Homo sapiens: one gene and its partners. Each later gene encodes a partner of the first gene's protein in a complex. Each region holds a gene or a part of one and is shown on either strand. Other genes may lie near its edges.

What was found. The genes of interacting proteins can lie anywhere in the genome.
Region 2: MED13L (region 1) and MED24 share a complex: the UniProt entries of both Homo sapiens proteins name them as parts of the mediator complex.
Region 3: MED13L (region 1) and MED4 share a complex: the UniProt entries of both Homo sapiens proteins name them as parts of the mediator complex.

Annotation. Positions count from the first base shown.
Region 1 is NC_000012.12:115,987,677-115,994,709, forward strand, and holds part of MED13L (mediator of RNA polymerase II transcription subunit 13-like), read right to left. Parts: intron 4,282-7,033; coding exon 3,344-4,281; intron 1-3,343. UniProt on the Homo sapiens protein: Component of the Mediator complex, a coactivator involved in the regulated transcription of nearly all RNA polymerase II-dependent genes.
Region 2 is NC_000017.11:40,030,405-40,037,437, reverse strand, and holds part of MED24 (mediator of RNA polymerase II transcription subunit 24), read left to right. Parts: intron 1-1,283; coding exon 1,284-1,322; intron 1,323-1,642; coding exon 1,643-1,716; intron 1,717-2,088; coding exon 2,089-2,321; intron 2,322-2,465; coding exon of another isoform or gene 2,466-2,522; intron 2,523-3,981; coding exon 3,982-4,093; intron 4,094-4,231; coding exon 4,232-4,382; intron 4,383-4,675; coding exon 4,676-4,789; intron 4,790-5,347; coding exon 5,348-5,395; intron 5,396-5,817; coding exon 5,818-5,900; intron 5,901-6,192; coding exon 6,193-6,279; intron 6,280-7,033. UniProt on the Homo sapiens protein: Component of the Mediator complex, a coactivator involved in the regulated transcription of nearly all RNA polymerase II-dependent genes.
Region 3 is NC_000013.11:48,078,101-48,085,133, forward strand, and holds part of MED4 (mediator of RNA polymerase II transcription subunit 4), read right to left. Parts: intron 5,329-7,033; coding exon 5,271-5,328; intron 3,632-5,270; coding exon 3,545-3,631; intron 1,894-3,544; exon of another isoform or gene 1,876-1,893; coding exon 1,744-1,875; exon of another isoform or gene 1,677-1,743; intron 1-1,676. UniProt on the Homo sapiens protein: Component of the Mediator complex, a coactivator involved in the regulated transcription of nearly all RNA polymerase II-dependent genes.

The DNA of each region.
Region 1 (7,033 bases):
ATAAGTAGGAAAAAATGGAACTTAAATAAAAGCTTTTAAAAACTCTTTAAATGCTCCTAATTGTAAAAATATTTTCACAAAATACAGAATGCATGAAGAGAAGGCCAATCTTCAGTGCAGCCAGAGGCACAGGGAAACACAGCTGAAGCCCTCAAGGACCGAAGTCCGCTGCAGGCACGGATGGGATTCACTGCCTTCTAAATGCAGATGACTTTAGTCCCAGCAGTCGCCCTGGGGAGGGATTTCTAACCTAAAATTTGAAAGTTGTCTGAACTCCATGCAAAACTGTGCAAGCACGCTTGGACATACGTATTTTTTTCTCAGGATGGAGGGTTCATCATGCAAATCAGATTCTTAAAAAGGTCTGCAGAAAGAGCTAATGACGCTGGAGGTGATGTGGTGTGAATCTGCACAGCTGGATTCCTGAAGACTCTGCCTCCCTCTTACCCTTCTAGCTGATGAGGGAAGGGGCATGGAAAGAAATCTAAGATTTATCTGCCAACTAAATTTGAAACACAGGATGATTAAGGATTCTTAAGACATTTTCAAACGTGTCCCTAAATCAGTAAAACACAGGTTGCAAAGTGGTGGTCCACAGAATATTTTGTTAAACTTTGGAACAAATCACTCCAGGAAATTTCACACACAAATCTAGATTGCCAGCTTCCCTTGAACTGGGAGACCCATATTCCTGCATAACCACCACTTGCTGGAGCTGAGGAGCAGCTGTCCCTCTCAGGCACCTCATGGCCCCTTCCCTGCTGTCTGTCCTGAGTCTGATGCAGTTTTCATTGCCTTTTATCTTCAGCCAGTGCTTCTTTTTACATATAGTAAACAACAACAGTGAATACTTCTTGTATTAATGGCTCTATCAAAAGCAGGAAATCACAGACCAAGAGAACCACAGATTTGAGGAAACTAAAAGCAAGCACGTTTCTTATGAACCCTATTCCTGTGCCTGCAAAATAGAAAGTGAGTTTTGAAAAGACAGCTTAAGGCACTGCCTTTTGCAAATGTCTCCCATCACATTCATTTACATTATCTGGTACTTTTAGGCATCTTAAAATTTGAAACCCAGACCTCCCCTGCAATAAAATGTCTTATTTTTCATCCTGAAAGACGACACCACTGATTCATGCACACAGACTGCTTTTCTGTCCGAAGGCCTATCTAGTAAAAGGACTCACCCAAGCTGATCATCCACATTTCTTTAGGGGAAAGGCTGCATTTTCTTCACTTCATAAATTCATTCAGTAGAAACTGATTAAGGGTCTGCTTAAGTATAAGGCACTGTGCTTGAACCTAAGCAGTTATACAAATGAGCATAACCCTTTAATGCTTTCTTAGTCATCTCTACCTCCATGAAAGCTTCCTTGATTGGCCTAGTCAGAAAATACCCATCACTCCCCATACTCTACTGACCTCTGGACATACTTTTAATTACTTCAGATTTCAAACTGTATTTAAGAAGCTTATATAACTTTCTTCCCTGCAAGACTGAGAGTTGTTCAGAAGCCGGGTTCGCACATCATTCACACAACCCTTCCAGTCTGGCCTCTGCTCCCACCACTCTACAGAAACAGCTCTCACCACGGTCAGAAGACATGTTTAATCCTTATCTTAAAATCTTCACTTGCATTTTAATGCCTGTCAATCACTTCCTCTTTCTTGAAACACTGGCTACCCCTGGCTTCCAAAAGCCCCCTCTATGGTTCTTCCTTCTCTGCTTGATAGGCTCACGCTTCTCTGCCTCACCTATACCCGTCAGAATGTAGCTAAGCTCTACCAGGTCCTCTTCTCGTCTATACTTTTCTCCTCCTCCTCAATGAGCTCATCTGTGCCCCCTTAATTGAAGTTATCACCTATATGCCAACCACTCCCTCTCCCCTGAGCAAAAGGCCCAAGAGTCTACTTGATACCTCTACCTGGATATATCAAAAGGGATCTTTAAAACTTCCAAACTTCCACAACTCAATTTATAAACTTTCTCTCCAGATATAGTCTTATCTTTGAACACCACTGACTATCCAGGTATACAAGTAACAAATCTGGGACTCCTCAACATCTCTCTTTCCCTTATCCCCAAAACTCAACTCACTATTGAGTCCTGCAATAATATTTCTTCTCCACCTTCTTCACAAGGACACTAAGGCAAGCTATTGTTTCTTACTAGGTCTTCCTCACTAACCTCCTTGTCTCCCCAAATCCATTCCTGCCACTTTCTAATCCATACCCAGAATTATAGCCAGTGCACATTGTTATTTTTCCTTTTTAACTACACAAATCTGACATCAGTGCTTCTTCTTAAAACCTTTCAATGACTTTGTATTGCTTTTTGCAGGAAGACCCAACCCCTAGCATGCCTCTAAAGAGTCACTGTAATCTAGCCCCTGCATGCTTCTAACCTCGCGTCAGTTTCTAAAGGCCCCAAGCTCCATACAACCAAGGGCCTTCCCACTTGCAGCACCTCCTGTCTGGGACACATGCCTCGCTCCCCATTCTCCTTCCTCAGTTAATGTGTACTCATCATTGAGATCTCTGAGCAAATGTTACTACTTCTACAACGAAGTCTTCTCTGACCTTCAGCCTAGAGTGCCCCGTCTATCCCATGCTTTTATCACTTATAAAATGGGTTGTAATAATATGCGTGCTTGTGTAATTATTTAATTGATGTCCACTTCCAGAATAGATTAGAAAGTCCATGAGGGTAAGTGCCTTGTTTCTTTCAGTAACCATTTTATCCCCCATGATGCATTGCAGTTTAGGCAGTGAATGAGTAAGAAAAGGAAACAGCAAGTTGCTTGGCACTCTTACAGCCCAACTTCACTGGAGCTTTTAATAATACAACCAGTTATATGCCCCAGTAACCACAATGCAAAGTAAAATGTGATTTTGTTATAAGTGATACAACAAAGGGGGAAAACAGAGAAGGGAGAAGAGACTCTGGAAATGGCTAGAAGGCTTCATGGAAGAGGTTCCTTGGAAACTTGATCTGGAAGAATGGTGGATTTAAGCATGCAAGAGTGTGCAAATTATCAGTCTGTAAGCTCCTGACGACTCTGATACTCAGCGGTCACAGGTTCCCAACATAGACTGCTTACTTATGAGTTACAAGAGGAAAATTTCAGAAAACAATTACTCTTCTCCAAAGGCATTTCAATATAAAACATTCTCCCAGTCCATAAGTTTAGGATAAAATCAATACAGCTCTCACTTTAGGTTCTTTTTTTTCCCCCGAAAGACATGAAATTAAAATTTTTTGTCAAATACAGTAAAGAAAGCTTTTAAGTTATGATCATACCAAGATACTCCTCAAAGTAAATTTGTGTTCTGGGACACCTACCATTGCTGTGAGGCCAAGAGTGCACAGTGGCACTTCTCACCAGAGCTTCGTCCACTTTTCCACCAGTGGGGTTATCCACATACTGCCGCCCCTGCTCCAACGCATTAAAGCATTCCGTCCAGTAATCATTATTATCTGCTTGCACCCGGTCATAACTCCAGCTTACACAGGGAAGAGTTTGGCGATTGTTAGAGGAAATGTAGTCCAGGAAATTCAGTGAAGCAAAAGGTTGTGTGTGTTGATTCTGGAGGAGGAGGAGAAGGCTTATGGGTGGCTCCTGGGGTTTTTTGGTTCCTTCCACCTGAGGAAGGAAGGTGGACTGACACATCATTAAGCGCCTCTCTGCAGCCTGACCAATATCAGAATTCTTCCCAAAAATATCCAACTCATCTTCAAGGAAGAGTCCTGAATTGTAGCCAAGTTTGCGGTTCATAATCGCACTAAACCCACAGGTACAGCGGTACTGGTCCTCATTGGAAGAATCGGGGATGTAAAGCCCGACATCCGCCCCTTTGATGTTCATGTTGCAGGCACAGATGCAACAGCTGTCAAAGTTTCTGTCTTTAAAGATATTCATCACGGAATCGGAGAGAATCAGGGTAACATAGAGGCTGTGGGCTTCGGGAATTGGCTGCATGGTGGCGGGCTCCACAGAGTTGAGGGGCCGTGTAGTAGAGGGGGTGGAGGCTGGTGATCCTTGATCGGTGCTATCATACTTAACAGACCCTTGACCACTGGCAGTGCCCCCACCTCTGGGAGTTCTTGGGGTCCTGGGGGTTCGTGGTGTGGGGACAGAGAAGCGAGGGGTTGCTGGAGATGGTAGGACTCCTGCCCCACTATTGCTGGCTGGGGCAGCGCTGTTCAACGTCACGGGTGTGTTCATCTGTGGTGTGTTCAGATAGTCTGGATCTGCTAGGCTCCCAACACTAGGCACGTTACTACAAAAAGAGAAGGCACCAAGTGAGGAAGGGCAGCATGTCACAGATGCTGAACTAGACACATGATCACCCCAGCCATGTACTGTGTATTTCTTATCATTTGTTTCTGCTATCACTGGGATACACTGGTATATTTAATTTTCTCTTAAAAAAAAAAAAGAAGATACAAAGGTCAGTGCAGTGTGTAGAGAAGAAGAAAGTAAGGTATGAAGAATAATTCAACACAGCACTTTCCTTCTACTTATTCCACATATAAGCATCCTCATCCTAACCTCTTGAAGGAACTTTTACTATTTTTATAAGAAAACATGGTACTGGGTTTGGTCAATGTAATTTGAAAAGTTAACTACTAAATGGAACTTCAACCATAAGTGCAGACACTAAATTAGCTAGAGGACCATAGGATGAAATTTCCATCTAATTTGCAATTACATTTTTGTCATTTTTTTTTTGAAATTCAAAGTCTGCCAGTGTACTTGTTCTCTGAGGCTATAATCTATATATCATATCAAAGTAGTTATAATCAAATACACATGAAAATTTAACATTTTTCTAATTTTCAAAATGCAGCCCTATCTAGGCTTACATTTTTATAGTAATGAGTGACCATGAGGGAATTATATTTTAGGTAGCCCATTTACCAGTACTATACTACAACTGATAGAAATATTACATATGCGGCTAAGAGGCCTCAGTATTAATTAGGTGGTTGCACAGAAGTACACATACTGTATCAGAGTTTCCAGCTTCCAGCAGCTTTCTGTGGGGTGGTAAGCACTTCATTTTTCACTTTTCAATATGGTATGCATTGCATATAGTGTAATTATTTTAGTTGCCCAAGACTGACTGGGCTATGTTATCTACTTTCTCATAAGCAGTGACTTCTTTTTGGAACAGCTAGGCAGAAAACACTGTCTGCAAGGTTCTGCTGTTTCATTATCATAAAACATTTTCTTGATATACAGTTGGCCCTCTATAGCCACAAGTTCCACATCTGTGGATTCAGCCATATACAGATGGAAAATCAAAATAAAAATACAATTAAAAAAAAAACAACAGTTAAAAAACACAAATCAAAACAGTAAAGTACAACATTTATATAGCATTTACATTGTATTAGGCATTACAAGTAATCCAGAGATGACTTAAGGTATACAGAGGGATTTGTGTAAATTACAAGGAAATACTCTGCCATTTTATATAGGGTACTTGAGCATCTTCAGATTTTGGTATCCGAGGGGGTCCTGGAATCAATCCCCCAAGGATACCAAGGGACAACTGTACTTTCTTAGATGTATATGTATATTAGCATATGAGTCCATTCTTCCTACTTAGAAGGTATCAAAAGAATATTTTTAAAATTTTTTAATATCCTTTTATATATATTAATACTGTACTTAAACTAATGCTCCTCCAATAAACTACATATTCAGTTACTTATAATGTGAAAGAAGCACGTCATAAAGAAATGTCTCTTCAAATAATTTCCTTGTGATTTTTAATTAGCTATGCCTAAACTACCAGCCTAAAAGTCCAAATCAGGCACTGTAAAGAAATATTAAATCTGAGGCACAGTGGTATCTTTGAGTACAGATAAAAAAAAAAAAATGACCCAGAAAACTTGATTGGCAATCACTGCTCTCTTAGAGACCAAAATAGTTAAGTGTGTAATAACGATCTTTACTCTAACTGGACTCCTTTCAAATTCTCCTGTTCAACAAAACCCTAAAATTATTACGCAGTTCAGATCAGAAAAGGAACTATGAGTACTAACTGAAAACCTAAAGAATTAAATTGCTCCCTGGGTAGTAAGAATGGTTTATCTTGTAATCTGATTTTTCCCATTTAATAAAAATGAACTGAGTAGCAACCCTACGCTAGAAGCTGGATAGTCAAAAGTGAAAAAGAGAAACAAAAGGTGGCTCATAAGCAAGTATGGCAGACATGAAGCAAATGATTGCAGGGGTATTGCATGTGACAAAGGAGGAGTCCAGGGTGATGGCGAGCAGAGACCACAGCAGGATTACACATATGCTGGAAACATACTGTCCAATAAGGTAGCCACCAGTCCCCATGTCCTAAATTTAAATTAATTAACATAAAACAATTCAGTCTTGGTCTCACTAGCCACATTTCAAGTGGTCAACACCTGCAGCAGGAAGCTGATGACTGCCATAGTGGACAGTGCAGACAGGAATCACCTACATGCCAGGTGCAGTAGCTCATGCCTATAATCCCAACACTTTAGGAGGCCGAGGCAGGAGAAACACTTGAACCCAGGAGTTCAGGACCAGTGTCGGCAACACAGGGAGACACAAACTCTACAACAAAATTTCATAAAAATTAGCTGGGTGTGGTGGCACGTGCCTGTAGTCCCAGCTACTCAGGAGGCTGATGTGGGAGGATCACTTGAGCCCAGGAGGTCAAGGCTGCAGTGAGCTGTGATTGTGCCACTGTACTCCAGCCCAGGTGACAGAGCGAGACCCTGTCTCCAAAAAACCCCCCCAAAAAACAAAAACAAAAACAAAAACAAAACCTTCATCACATAAAGTTGTATAATAGAGCCAGTTAAGAATACAAAGAATCTTTGGGATGGCAAATGAAAGATGTAATAGATCTAAATAATGACCTAAATGATTTAAACGATTACACAGCAAAAGCTTGCATGTGACCTTTTTGGGGAAACCTGTATGTATGAAAGAGATTAAACTGCTGAATGGGTTCTTAAAACTGCTATGTCATTTATTGGCAA
Region 2 (7,033 bases), on another chromosome or scaffold:
AATTTAGTGGGGACTGCAGGCACCCGCCGTGTAATGATGAGCCTTAGGTGATTACTTGGAGCACAGAGGAAGGGTTTCAGCTTTGTGGGGGAGGTTGGGGTTGATCAGGGAAGGTGTCCTGGATGGGTCCTAGGGAGTAAGTTCTGGAGAACAAATAAGAGTTTGTACAGTAAAACTTACTCTTTCCTTCTTTCCTTCTTTCCTTCCTTCCTTCCTTCCTTCCCTCTTTCTCTCTCTCTCCCTCCCTTTCTTTTCTTTTGACAGAGTCTCACTCTGTCACCCAGGTTAGAGTGCGGTGGCAAGATTTCGTCTCACTGCAACATCCGTCTCCCAGGCTCAAGCAGCTCTCCTGCCTCAGCCTCCCAAGTAGCTGAGATTACAGGCATAGGCCACCAGGCCCAGCTAATTTTTGTATTTTTAGTAGAGACAGGGTTTCACCATGTTGGCCAGGCTAGTCTTGAACTCCTGACCTCAGGTAATCCTGCCTCAGCCTCCCAAAGTACTGGGATTACAAACGTGAGCCACCACGCCCAGCCACTCCCTGTTTCAAGGTGCAGGTACTACCTGCTCAGTGCAGGAAATGTTTGTTTGTCTCTAGTTCTTACCCATTAAAACCTCTGTTCTTGCCGGAAGCTGTAGGAATACAGTGACATGGCTTCACTCTTGCCCATGCTTCTGCCCACTAGCCGTCAGTTAACCCATGCTTATTGAGGACAGTGAGTAGCAGGCGCTTTTTTTTTTTTTTTTTTTTGAGACAGAGTCTCGCTCTGCTCCCAGTCTGGACTGCAGTGGCACAATCTCGGCTCACTGCAACCTCCAACTCCCTGATTCAAGCGATTCTCCTACCTCAGCCTCCTGAGTAGCTGGGATTATAGGCACGCACCACCACACCCAGCTAATTTTTAATTTTTAGTAGAGACGGGGTTTCACCATGTTGGGCGGGATGGTCTCAAACTCCTCACCTCGTGATCCGCCCGCCTCGGCCTCCCAAAGTTTTGGGATTACAGGCATGAGCCACCATGCTCGGCCTGAAACATGGAGCCTTTGAGCATCCCCAGAATCATCTTCTTGATGGGCTTATGCTGATACCATTTGCAGTAAGTCTGACAGAGGCAGGAACAGGGCAGTGCACAGTGACACTGCCTCTCCTTGCTTGGGTTGAAGAGGGCCTGTGGAAGGGGTTGAGGTTCAGGAGAGCTGCAGCAACTTGAAGCATCAGTGTTTGTTCCTCTCAACTGTGGGAGACTAGTTGTCTAAAGATTATCTTTCTTCCTTCTCTCCAGATGGTGTCCTACTCTTCTGTCCTCACAGCCATCAGTAAGGTATGACCATAGACACTCAGGAGCTAGATTGGGGATGACAGACAAGGCCCCGCCTCCTTGACGGCCCTGATGCTGTGACCCGTGAGGCTGGATAGGCAGCACATGATGCCTCTGGCTGGCATTGCTGGACTTCCATGGGAGGGGGATCCTGGCAAGTAGGGGCTGGTGCTTGGGAGCCAATGTCCAGTGTTGAGGATGCTGAGTCTGGAACCCAGGGTTGGAGGAGAGAGGAGCAGGAGTCCTGAATGCACCGTCTGCCTCATGTGAGACCTGGGGGTGGATGGAGGCATTCCGTAGCATCTCCACTGTCCTTTCCACAGTTTGATGACTTTTCTCGGGACCTGTGTGTCCAGGCATTGCTGGACATCATGGACATGTTTTGTGACCGTCTGAGGTAAGGGCAGGGGTAAGGGGGCTCACAATACAATGTTCCAGCCTTGTCTTTGTGCAGAGGTGCAGCTCCTAGCACACAGACCGAGACCAACTCCGGGTTCCAACGTTTTTTCTCCCCACCTGCCCATCTACACTTACCTGTGCCCTCCTTTTCTTACTCCCTTAGGACAGAGTGCCTCCTCTCTGTCTGGAGTAGCTCATTTGAAATCTTGTCCAGTAGGAGCCAAAGGGGCTAAGCATCTTCCCCAGGACTTTGCTAGCTTCTCAGCCCTAGTCCCTAGTAGGGGAGTGCCAGGGACTCTGGGGAACATTGATGTGGGTCGGATTTCAGCCATTGGAAGAACAGAGTCTGATTTTGCATCCTTCCCTGTAGCTGTCACGGCAAAGCAGAGGAATGCATCGGACTGTGCCGAGCCCTTCTTAGCGCCCTCCACTGGCTGCTGCGCTGCACGGCAGCCTCTGCAGAGCGGCTGCGGGAGGGGCTGGAGGCCGGCACTCCAGCCGCTGGGGAGAAGCAGCTTGCCATGTGCCTTCAGCGCCTGGAGAAAACCCTCAGCAGCACCAAGAACCGGGCCCTGCTGCACATCGCCAAACTAGAGGAGGCCTGTATGTCCCTTGATTCCCCTGAGCCCCACCTGCCGCTGCTCCCATAGCCGGTCCTTTAATTGAGAAGGGAGAGGCAGGATGCCATCCCACCTCTTTCCAGGAGGATCTGAAACCATCCCACTTCCTTTTTTTTCTCCCCATAAGCATTGCACACATCCCAGGGACTTGGGCAGGGTGGCACCCGAGCCAATCAACCAACAGGTATTTACTGAGCATTGTTGTATACCCAGCACTGTGCTAGGTGCTGGGGGTGGGGGGTGGGGGGCTACCAAAGGAGCATGTGGCAGGGTCCCTGCCCTCATCAAGCATAGCTGCTAGTGGGTAGCAAGACTAGTACATCACAGACGAGGAAAAAACTAGAGGACAAGACAAGCACAGTGTCCATTATTGTGTTTGTCTCCATGTTACTCATCGCTTGGAAGCAGATGACTCTTGTATTTGAATGTTACCTAAAATGCCCCTTTTAACACAGTGCCTGTCTGCTGTTGGGCCTGTTGTACCATATGCCTCTTGACTCAAGTTCAGATGTTAAGTTTGGGTACTTTCCAGAGCCTGAGAACAGACAGATCACCTGGCGGGAGGGAAGATGCCAGTATTTCCAGCAATGGGGTCCTAAGGCCATAGTCTTGCTCCTTGAAGCCCAAGTGGCTTGGGACCACCTACAGGTCTCTTGTTCTCCAGGAACAAGAATGCTAGAATGGGCTACTCTCGAGGCTTCAGGACCTGGTTGGAGAGCTTGTTTTAGGACTAGTATATTTATTTCTTCCCCAAGTATGTTTTACTGCCTGTGAAAAGTCCAAAAAGACAATCTTTATATAAAAATGGACTGTGTTGACAGCCTCTTCCCTACCTTGGGCCCTTGATAAATGTTTATTGGCTGAAAATCGGATGAATACTGAATTTTAATGGATCTCAGGTCTTGTCTTTTTTTCCCCCTTTTATGCTCCATGGAGGTTAATGGGCTAGTTGGTGCCATTATTCATCATTTGACCCTCTGGAATTGTAACTAGGATAAGTAACTTATAGTTCAGTGCTAACCAATATGGCTTAGACCATGAGTGTGGGCATTAAGGAGAGAACAGTGAGTTAGACCAGTCGGGTGAGTTGCTAAAGGAACTGGGGCTTGAACAGAAGCTTAGAGCATGGTGGGAGTTTGAGAGAGAGTGTGTAAGAGGCCTTCAGCAGGGGAGGGCAGCAAACGCAATGCCTAGATGAGGGAGTGGTTGAGAATGAGAAAGCCATTTAGGGACCCAGTTCCCCCAGAGGAGAGTGACAGCCTCTGCAAGACTGGACTTTGGGATCCGCTCACTCCTCGAGTGATTTGTGGCCGCCCTCCCTGTTCCAGCCACTGGATTCTGGCCTCCCTCTGCCTCTCTCTCCTGAGCCTGTGTGATGCCATACCTTCTGAAGTCAGCTGGCTGTGTCCCCTGGAAATCAGGCTTTTGGGAATGGTCTCTGGGGTTTCCAGCTCTAGGTGCCCACCCCCCTTCTGGAAACAGTGCATGCTGCCCTCAGGCCCCTCCCTCCCTGTTGTCCTCAGGGGAAGCCTTCCTGTGTGGTTTCGTGTGCCGGAGGGAGTGCCAAAATCGAGGAGTTCAGGGCCAGGTGCTCCTTCTCTCCTGTTTCCCATCATGTTTCTGTACTTCCTTCCCTCTGCCAGCTTCTTGGACTGCCATCGAGCATTCTCTCTTGAAACTTGGAGAGATCCTGGCCAATCTCAGCAACCCGCAGCTCCGGAGTCAGGCCGAGCAGTGTGGCACCCTCATTAGGAGGTACCGGCTCCCTGGGGGATGGTGGAGAAGGGAGAGGGAGGACACGCCCTGGGGTAGGAAGATGTGGCACCCGTGCCATCCTCTCCGCCTTCACCTTTGGCCCCCCAAACACCGTCCCCTGTGTTTGTGACCCCTCAGCATCCCCACGATGCTGTCTGTGCATGCGGAGCAGATGCACAAGACCGGCTTCCCCACTGTCCACGCCGTGATCCTGCTCGAGGGCACCATGAACCTGACAGGCGAGACGCAGTCCCTGGTGGAGCAGCTGACGATGGTGAAGCGCATGCAGGTGGGAGGGGCCGAGTGGCTCTCCCTTCTCCAAGGCAGGCCAGCCTGTTGGGGGCAGGAGGGAGGATTCTTCTGGTTCTCCCTGGGAGAAGTGGGGTTTCTCCTGCTCCATGATGGAAAGTGGGTGCCAGTCGTGCACACTTCTGTCATTGGACCTTACTCCCCTGGTTCTCAGCACATAGCTGAGCAGTGACTCTGCCATGCAGTCTCTGACCCAGCCAAATCCTCAGAGTCCACAGAAGGGTGACGGGGTATGGGCACCCTCTTAGGCCTCATCCTTGGCTCTTCCCACAGCATATCCCCACCCCACTTTTTGTCCTGGAGATCTGGAAAGCTTGCTTCGTGGGGCTCATTGAGTCTCCCGAGGGTACGGAGGAGCTCAAGTGGACAGCTTTCACTTTCCTCAAGGTACTGGGGACGTGGGAGGGGCAGAGCCAGTCTAGGAATGGTTCTTAGCAAGACCAGTGGCACCCTGGACCTTTGCCCTGTGTTCCTCCCTGCGGGCACTGGGCCCAGCCTGCCAGGTATTCCAGTGCAAGTTCCCATTGATCATTTTCTCTGAAAGTGCCAGGGCTATATTTAGCCCATTTGGCAGACTCCGTTGTTTCTTACCACAGAGGTGCAGTTTAGCTTGGTCATCAGACAGATAGGTGCAGGGCAGTAAAGGGAGCCAGGGAAAGGGGCCCCAGTCCTCCTTGAAGCTGGGGATCCACTTTTGCTTATGGCATCTTTTTCTGTTGAGCTAGCGGAGGTGCAGGGTGCTTGTGTCCTGTGCCTAGGCCTGGGGGCATCAGGGGCCTGGGCACCTATTGGCTTTCTCATTTAGCACTAAGTGTGCTCTCACTCCCAGGGTAGGAGTGTTCCTGTCTCTCTTCCTGGAGCAGGGGTTCGGGGGGATGCCTTCAGGGGTAGATGAAAGAGAAAAGAAATGGATCTTCCTGTTTTTCCCCCTGCCTCACCCCCTAGATTCCACAGGTTTTGGTGAAGTTGAAGAAGTACTCTCATGGAGACAAGGTGAGTTGGGGATTGAGATGGAGGCATGGGAGCAGAAATAAGGGCAAAGGGGAGGGTCCTTCAGGCCCCAGCTGGGCAGTGTTCTCATGCCTGGAAGAGAGCCGGATGTGAGTGTACACCTCAGCGTGCACGTGCTTCACAATGTGCATGCTTCAGCATGTGCGTGTGCTTCAGCATGTGCGTGTGCTTCAGTGTGTGCGTGCTTCAGTGTGTGTGTTTCAGCGTGTGTGTGCTTCAGCGTGTACGTGTGCTTCAGCCAGTGTGTGTGCTTCAGCGTCTGCGTGCACCCACAACATACACCCAGGCTCCAGGCAGAAAGCAGCCAGGCAACTCAGGCCGATGCCTCCAGCAGACAAGGTTGCCTGAGATGATCAGGGCCTGGTGGCCCTGGAAACCAGATGGACACTTCTGCCTCTTTCTAGGACTTCACTGAGGATGTCAACTGTGCTTTTGAGTTCCTGCTGAAGCTCACCCCCTTGTTGGACAAAGCTGACCAGCGCTGCAAGTATGAGCTCCCCTGGTCACCCCCGCCCTACTGGAAGGCGTTCTGGGCTCTTCCCCTGATCTCTGTGCCAGAGAAGCCTCAGGGGACTCTGTCTCCTTGTTCACTCCCCTTGGCAGGGGCAGGAAATAGGAGCCCACAGTTGCCAAGTCCCCAGAGCCCCTCTACCGTCCCTCAGGCACTCCAGATTTTCCTCATCCTGAAAGAGGGAGGATGCTGCTCAGGGACCTGCCACTCCCACCCCTCACCATCCTATCCAGGTGCCCAGTTCCCTCAGCATCTTTCTCCCTCACAGCTGTGACTGTACAAACTTCCTGCTCCAAGAATGTGGCAAGCAGGGGCTTCTGTCTGAGGCCAGCGTCAACAACCTTATGGCTAAGCGGTAAGTGTGAACGCACCTGTGCTACCCCAAGAGCCCCTTGACCTCTCTCTTGTTACGGTGGGGCTGCTGCGTGCCTTTCAACCTCCTGTCGAAAGTTTGGGCTGCAAGTGACTGGGACCGTGCCTGGGGGTACAGGGAACAGGAAGGAAAAGAAAGCACAGATGTCTTCAGACCAGAGTTTTACACTCTTAGTCACTGCTCTTTAACTCATACCCATCTTTGTGATAAAAGTAAAAATCCTAGGCTGGAGGCGGGTGGATTACTTGGAGGCCAGGAGTTCAAGACCAGCCTGCCCAACATGGCAAAACCCCATGTCTACTAAAAATACAAAAATCAGCTGGGCGTGGTGGTGTGTGCCTGTAATCTCAGCTACTCTGGAGGCTGAGGCACGAGAATTGCTTGAACCCAGGAGGCGGAGATTGTGGTGAGGCGAAATCATGCCACTGCACCCCAGCCTGGGCGATAGAGTGAGACCTTGTCTCAAAAAAAAAATAAATAAATAAATAAAAATCCTGAATCTTCCTTTAATCTTAAATGTGCTTTCAGAGCATTTAAGACTAATGATAGGCCGGCTGCGGTGGCTCACACCTGTAATCCCAGCATTTGGGAGGCCAAGGCGGGTGGATCACGAGGTCAGGAGTTTGAGACCAGCCTGGCCAACGTGGTGAAACCCCATCTCTACTAAAAATACAAAAATTAATCAGGCGCGATGGTATGCACCTGTAATTCCAGCTACTCAGGAGGCTGAGGCAGG
Region 3 (7,033 bases), on another chromosome or scaffold:
GGGCCCAAGTTACATTTAAAGTCTGTATTTCTGAAGCAAAGGGACAGAGCACATAAACAGGTATAGTTCAAGACTCAAATAAAGAAGGCAGATTTTTAAAGGGTCAAAAGAAAGAGTTATGGTATTAACTAGAAAGGTATGCCAGTTAGCCTCAAATCTACCCTTCTCTCTGGCCCCTGAAACCATTTCTCCTTTGCCAGCTGCCACAATTAAGTTTTGTCAGTAGAGGGCACAGGTGGGACTCCACTAGCAAACAAGTTTCACTTCCTGGATCAGGTGGTTTTGTCTCCTTTACTGCTGTGATGCCTGGTTGGTGTGCAGGACATTAAGTGGTGTTCACCACAGCAACTTTCGGTGGCGCCTCTAAAGGTGGTTTCCTAGCAGGTTTCACCAGAATCCCAAAGGGCAGCTTCCCAGCAAGTCTCCCTGGAACCCCAGTGGGTAATTTCCTGCTTGCCAGCTCTGGCCTCTGATGCCTCATCTAACTTCTCTGCCATGGAGTGGGCCACATTACACTGCACCCTCTCCAATGACAGCACCATGATATGAGAGTATCGGCCTTGGGATGGAGCTGGGGAAGACTGTTTTTAGGTCTGTCCCTTCCTTGGTCCAAAATGTGGCAGTGACTCCCCATATCTGTTTTTCCTGTACTTTTAAAACATGAGAAATATGAGGTGATATCCAAGGATATCACAGTTGAGTTCCCCTGGTTGTACTTTAGGTAGCTAACAAAAATGATGCATACAAAGCATTATTAATGACACAGGGACAGCCTTATGATGTAACATTAAGCAAAAAATGTATAGGGGAAAAAAGGAAACAGGCTAAAATATTTAAAGTGACTGCCTCAGAAAGGGTATATTTTTTTCCTTTTTTAAATGCCTTTTTCTACTTCCCAAATGTTCTACCACATCAAAACAAAAGTCACCTACAAACTATAAAAGATGAGGAATAATATAAAACAAATATATATAAAAATAGCACAAACCTATGAAAAACTTGAGGAAAACTGAAGCTCAGAATGAACTGGGTCTCACAGAAATACTATTTTATAAAGTTATAAAAGTTTATAAAAAGCTATTGTTATTCATTTTGTTAACTTGGGGGTTGTTCAGGAGTGTGTTCACTTTATTCCGTAAACTATCTTACTCTATTTACATAGCATGTTTCACAATTATAAAAAAGCTATGTTTAGAGCAATAATTTAAAAAGAGAGGCCAAATGCCTGAGGAAGACAGTGTAATATTTACAAATAAGAGAAAGGCAGCTTGTTCTAATTTCATACCTCCCTCAAGGAGAATCTTTAGAGCAGAATAAACCGGCAAAGAATCTAGCTATTACAATGAACTGGGTCTGAGAGGCAGGCACACTGGCTCACACCTGTAATTCCAGTACTTTGGGAGGCTGAGGCAGGTGATTGCTTGGGGTCAGGAGTTCGAGACCAGCCTGGCCAACAGAGCGAAACCCCATATCCACTAAAAATACAAAAATTAGCCAGGCCTGGTGGCACACACCTGTAATCCCAGCTACTCGGGAGGCTGAGGCACAAGAATCACTTGAACCTGGGAGCCAAGATTTCGCCAACACGCTCCAGCCTGGGTGACATAACAAGACTGTCTCAAATTTACAAAAAAAAAAAAATTGTGTCGGGAATCTCAAACTTGCTTTACCGCCAGATATTCCAACCTTGTCATCTCTGGAAAACCCTGATCTGTTTGAAAACACTCTTCGGCTTAACATTACCTGGCAATCTTCCTGCTGCAAGTGCATCTCCTGGTAAATGGCCATTCACGCCATTAGTGGAAGGATTGTTCATCTGACCCAGTAACCCACTTCTCATCTCTAAATCAGTTGGGTAGGGTCTCCGGGGGTCCCCTAAAACAATAAAGACTGCATTTAATTCAATCATATTTTAAAAAATAAGTGTTAATATGTTATTTGACATACTCATTTTCGCTGGTTCATGCTGAAAAGTTCAGGCTACATTTTCAATTTTGAAATACAGAAGTCATCTGGCCAGGTGCAGTGGCTCACGCCTGTAATCCCAGCACTTTAGGAGGACGAGGTGGGTGGATCACCTCAAGTCAGAAGTTCAAGACCAGCCTGGCCAGCATGGTGAAACCCCGTCTCTACTAAAAATAAGAAAATTAGTCAGGCGTGGTGGCACGCACCTATAATCCCAGCTACTCGGGAGGCTGAGGCAGGAGAATCGCTTGAACCCGGGAGGCAGAGGTTGCAGTGAGCTGAGATTGCACCACTGCACTCCAGCCTGGGCCACAGAGCAAGACCCTGTCTCAAAAAAAAAAAAAAAAAAAAAAGAAAGAAAGAAATATAAAAGTCACCTTATAAATTGTTATTAATAGCATATTACTTTTTAAAATACACGCATTTTAATTTCTTTTCTGAATCTTCCCAAGAATATACTATTTTCTACACTTTAAAAAAAAAGAGATGTCATTTTTTTGTAGACATTCCAGATGACAACTTAAGAAAATTATAATAATCTCAATTATTCAAACTTAACTGTATTTTCTAGCAAGAAAATGACAATGATTATGCTGCAAGGGAGAAAAAAATCATGACACTTATAAGACAGAAAGGACTGGAATGTTTAATAGAAGGACTGTCTCAATTTAAAATCTTTTTTTTTTTTTACATTTTTCATCTTTTTGTTTTACTTTTATTTTCCTCATGCCACCTTGTCTAAGATAAAACCTTTTTCTAACCAACCTCTTTGATCTTGTAATTCAGAAACTAATTCGTGTAAGTGGCAAAATAGCAGGAGCAGGTAATGTCCATCCCAAACATGAAAGCACACTAAATAGCAGTATGTGGTTGACAAAAACTTGACCAGATTTGGATTGACTTTTTGGGCACATCTCACCAACTGCAGCTTATCCATCCCCAAAATTATAGTCACCCTTAGTGCTTTCAGCATGGTAACACAGCACCTTCAGAAGTTATTTTGAAGTGGAGATAACTACTAATATTTCCCCTTCCTCCAATAAGGCTGCTACCTTACGTCTCCTGTTTTATGTTTCATCCACTGTCAATATAGTTGCAGCTTGATCCTCTCTTTTGCTGTCTAATTATCCCAGCTCTTTCCAAGCCTGTATGTTCACTGTTGGGTGCGTAGTGCTTTGTCTTTAGCATCTAAGAGAACTGGAATTGTCTTTCTCAGGCTGGAACCTTTGTGGAAATCCTAATGGCTCTAAAGAGTTTGCTTCTGGCCAGCCCTGATAAAATGGTATATAAATCCAAAGCTTTAGAAGCATCACATTATTATCTCGTACTTTAAAAAATTATCAATTTATTATTTCAAAAGACGAAAGAAACACAGTCCCTAGCAACAATGGCTTCACAGAAAACCAAATTTATAAAACCCATGGCCTATATCATTACTTATAAACCATTAAAGATGTGAAAATATGTGGCAGAGGTTTCTAAGGATAAATACATTTTAAATTAAATCTATGTCTGTACATAGTCACCTAAGAATCTTCAAAACCACATATATCTAGTATAATAAGACGAGTATGTTTACCTGGAACCCAGGTCAGTGGAGCACATACAGCATTACTTGCACTGATCCTATGTGCATACTTAATTATTTCTTCAGAGGAGATAGCACCTGAAAGAGTTTTAAGAGGACAGTATAACCTGTAGTCTAACAAACATACAAGTTTAGAAATGTATCTATCAGTTACACATCGTATTTAATTTTAAATTATCTGAAAATAAAATAATCTCAGTCACCTGCCTTCCTTAACAATACCTACATGTTTAGTATAAACTTAAATCTCCAAAAACAGGACACTAATCCAGAAAAATTAGCTGACATAAACAAATTTCGGAGATTAGCACCATAGCACTCAATAATCTCAATTATTAACTACCGTTAAATACCATTCCTCTTCTGAAAGCATAGTGAGCACAAATAAAATAGAGAAAACAGTGTTTCATTTCTCAAAGACATCCAAGCTATGAAATCAGAGCAGACAGTTCACACCACTCTGTTCGATCAATATGCCCTAAGGCTCTTAAGTAGACCTAAATAGAAAGATGTCTACAATGTATTCATTAGGTAAAAAAAAAAACTAAACTGCTAAATAATATGTACGGTATGACCCGACTGTTCAAAATGTATGTACATATGTGTATTTGTATTTTTATTACATACATACTCACAGATCTAGAAAAAAAAAATCTAGGACATATACCAAACATTAATAGTTACCTCTGAGAAGTGAGAACCACACACTTCATTTTACAAACTTTAGATACTGTTTCAATGTAACAAAGTGTATGTGTGTACAGTTTTTGAAGATTAAAAACAGAATCAAACAACGGTCTAGAAGTCAACAGCCAGCCTCAGCCATCTCTCCTAGAGATTTGTTTCTTGCTACAGAAGCCTAACCTAACTCTCAAAAGAATATTAGCTATTTGGCTGGGCGCAGTGGCTCATGCCTGTAATCCCAGCACTTTGGGAGGCCGAGGTGGGCAGATCACGAGGTCAGGAGATCAAGACCATCCTGGCTAACACAGTGAAACCCCGTCTCTACTAAAAATACAAAAAATTAGCCGGGTGTGGTGGCGGGCGCCTGTAGTCCCAGCTACTCGGGAGGCTGAGGCAGGAGAGTGGCGTGAACCCGGGAGGCGGAGCTTGCAGTGCGCCGAGATCGCGCCACTGCACTCCAGCCTGGGCGACAGAGCGAGACTCCGTCTCAAAAAAAAAAAAAAGGAGTATTAGCTATTTAACAGAAGCCTTTGAAAAAGGGACAGCAGGGCAGGAAGGCATGTGGGCCTCTGCACCACCAAATGTGCTTATATGCCAAGGGTATAACTGGCTCTGACTTCATGTACGTCTGGCTCTGACTTCATGATGTTTCAGTCCCAGCGCAGTTGCCCAATGGATGTCTTTTCACTCTCTCTGTCCTAACCTTCAAGATTTGGTACAAATCCCACTTCTAACCCATACTTCTCTTTCCCTCTCCCACCAATTTTATAAACTCACTGTTTTTACTGCACATTTGGGCACACAGCCATAAACTGCCTTGTATTAATTGCTTTTTATAATCTGAAAAAAGATGTGATACTTCTACCTCCCTCACAAAACCCAGCACAATGCTAGAACACAACACACTTTACAATAAAAATTTACTGAATCTTTTCAACAGCAGCAAATGATTATCAGTAATATCCTCTTGTATTGGTTTCCTGAAACCAGAACCTTAACTTTTCAGGTCATTCAGTCTTCCCATGATACTAACCTTTTCTTGCTTTTTCTATTGACTTGAGTTTCTCCTTCGCTTGGTAAACAGCTGTTGCCTAATTTAAACAACATTTAAAAAACGTGGTTTATTCTTCAACTATATCAAACTTAGTTTTTGGCTTAATTCACAAGATCCTTTAGCCTACAAGAACAATCTTTGAAACTTGGAAATCCCAACAATTTATTTGTAATGTTCTGAAATACCACTTGACATTATTTATTTCAGTCATATTTAATGAAAGAAATATTATATTTATGAACTAGTCTCCCATTCACAAATTAGTTGTAGAAACAAAACATAAATTGGATTGTCTTTTTCTTCACGTCTTCTACCATAAACATGCAGAAGACACCCAGACTATGGACGACCCCAAAAGCATCCTATTCTTGCAACTAGTTCAAGAATAAAATACCCTTTTTTCCCCTAGTTTGGAAGATACAACCTTGAATTCATATTCTTATTCGTTTATATATCAGCTCAATGTTTAATGACTTTATCACAAAAACACTCCCTCCAAGCCCTCAGGTACACTAAAGGACAAAATGAAGTTAACCTAGTATATGCATATCTTCGACTATGACACTGTGGTTAAGAGTATGGAGTCAGGCCAGGCACAATGGCTCACACCTGTAATCCCAGCATTTTGGGAGGCCGAGGCAGGCAGATCATTTGAGATCAGGAGTCTGAGACCAGCCTGACCAACACGGTAAAAACCCATCTCTACTAAAAATACAAAAAATTTATATGGGCATGGTGACACACGCCTATCTCAGCTACTTGGGAGGCTGAGGCAGGAGAATCGCTTGAACCCAGGAGGCAGAGGTTGCAGTGAGCCAAGACTGTGCCATCGCACTCTGGCCTGGGCAATAGAGCAAGAGCAAGACTCTGTCTCAAAAAAAAAAAAAAAAAAAAAAAAAGAGTATGGAGTCAGAGAGATCAAGGTTTAAATTCAATCTACTTTTTAGCCTCCATGGGCAAGTTAGTTATTAAAGTATTGGTTTCTTCCTCTAAATGACGACACTGACTTGATATAAACTGTTAGGAAGATGGAAGTAATGCATATAAAATGCAAGGCACAGGGCCTGGTGCCTAAGTGCTCAATCAATGTTAGTTACTACTATTTAAGTCATGAAATTCAGTTTTATGGTCCTGTGTTCACTGTCTTTAATTATTTATAACACAAAGTGGGAAAATCAAACAAAGTGGATACAATTATATGAAAAATGCTTAAGTTTCAATAAACAGTAATTGAAAGTCTGTTAGTATCCTGCTAACTACAATTACCTAAAAAATTAATACACCTGAGACTCAAAGGAAATAGACCAAACTATGAATAGTGGCATTCTTTCCGCAGCTGAACTAAAGACAATTTTTTCCCTCTTCTTTCCATTTTTCTGTATTTTCTGAATTTTGTTTGATAAGCAAGTATTACATACATAAGGATTTTTATATACATATTTACAGATTTTAATATATATATAATATATACAAACATATAAATAATATATTTTGAGACAGAGTCTCCCTCTGTCGCCCAGGCTGGAGTGCAGTGGGGTGATCCCAGTTCATTGCAACCTCTGCCTCCCGGGTTCAAGAGATTCTCCTGCCTCAGCCTCCCAAGTACCTGAGATTACAGGCGTGAATCACCATGCCCAGCTAAATTTTTTTGTATTTTTAGTAGAGATGGATTTCACCATGTTGACTAGGCTAGTCTTGTACTCCCGACCTCAGGTGATCTGCCCACTTTGGCTTCCCAAAGT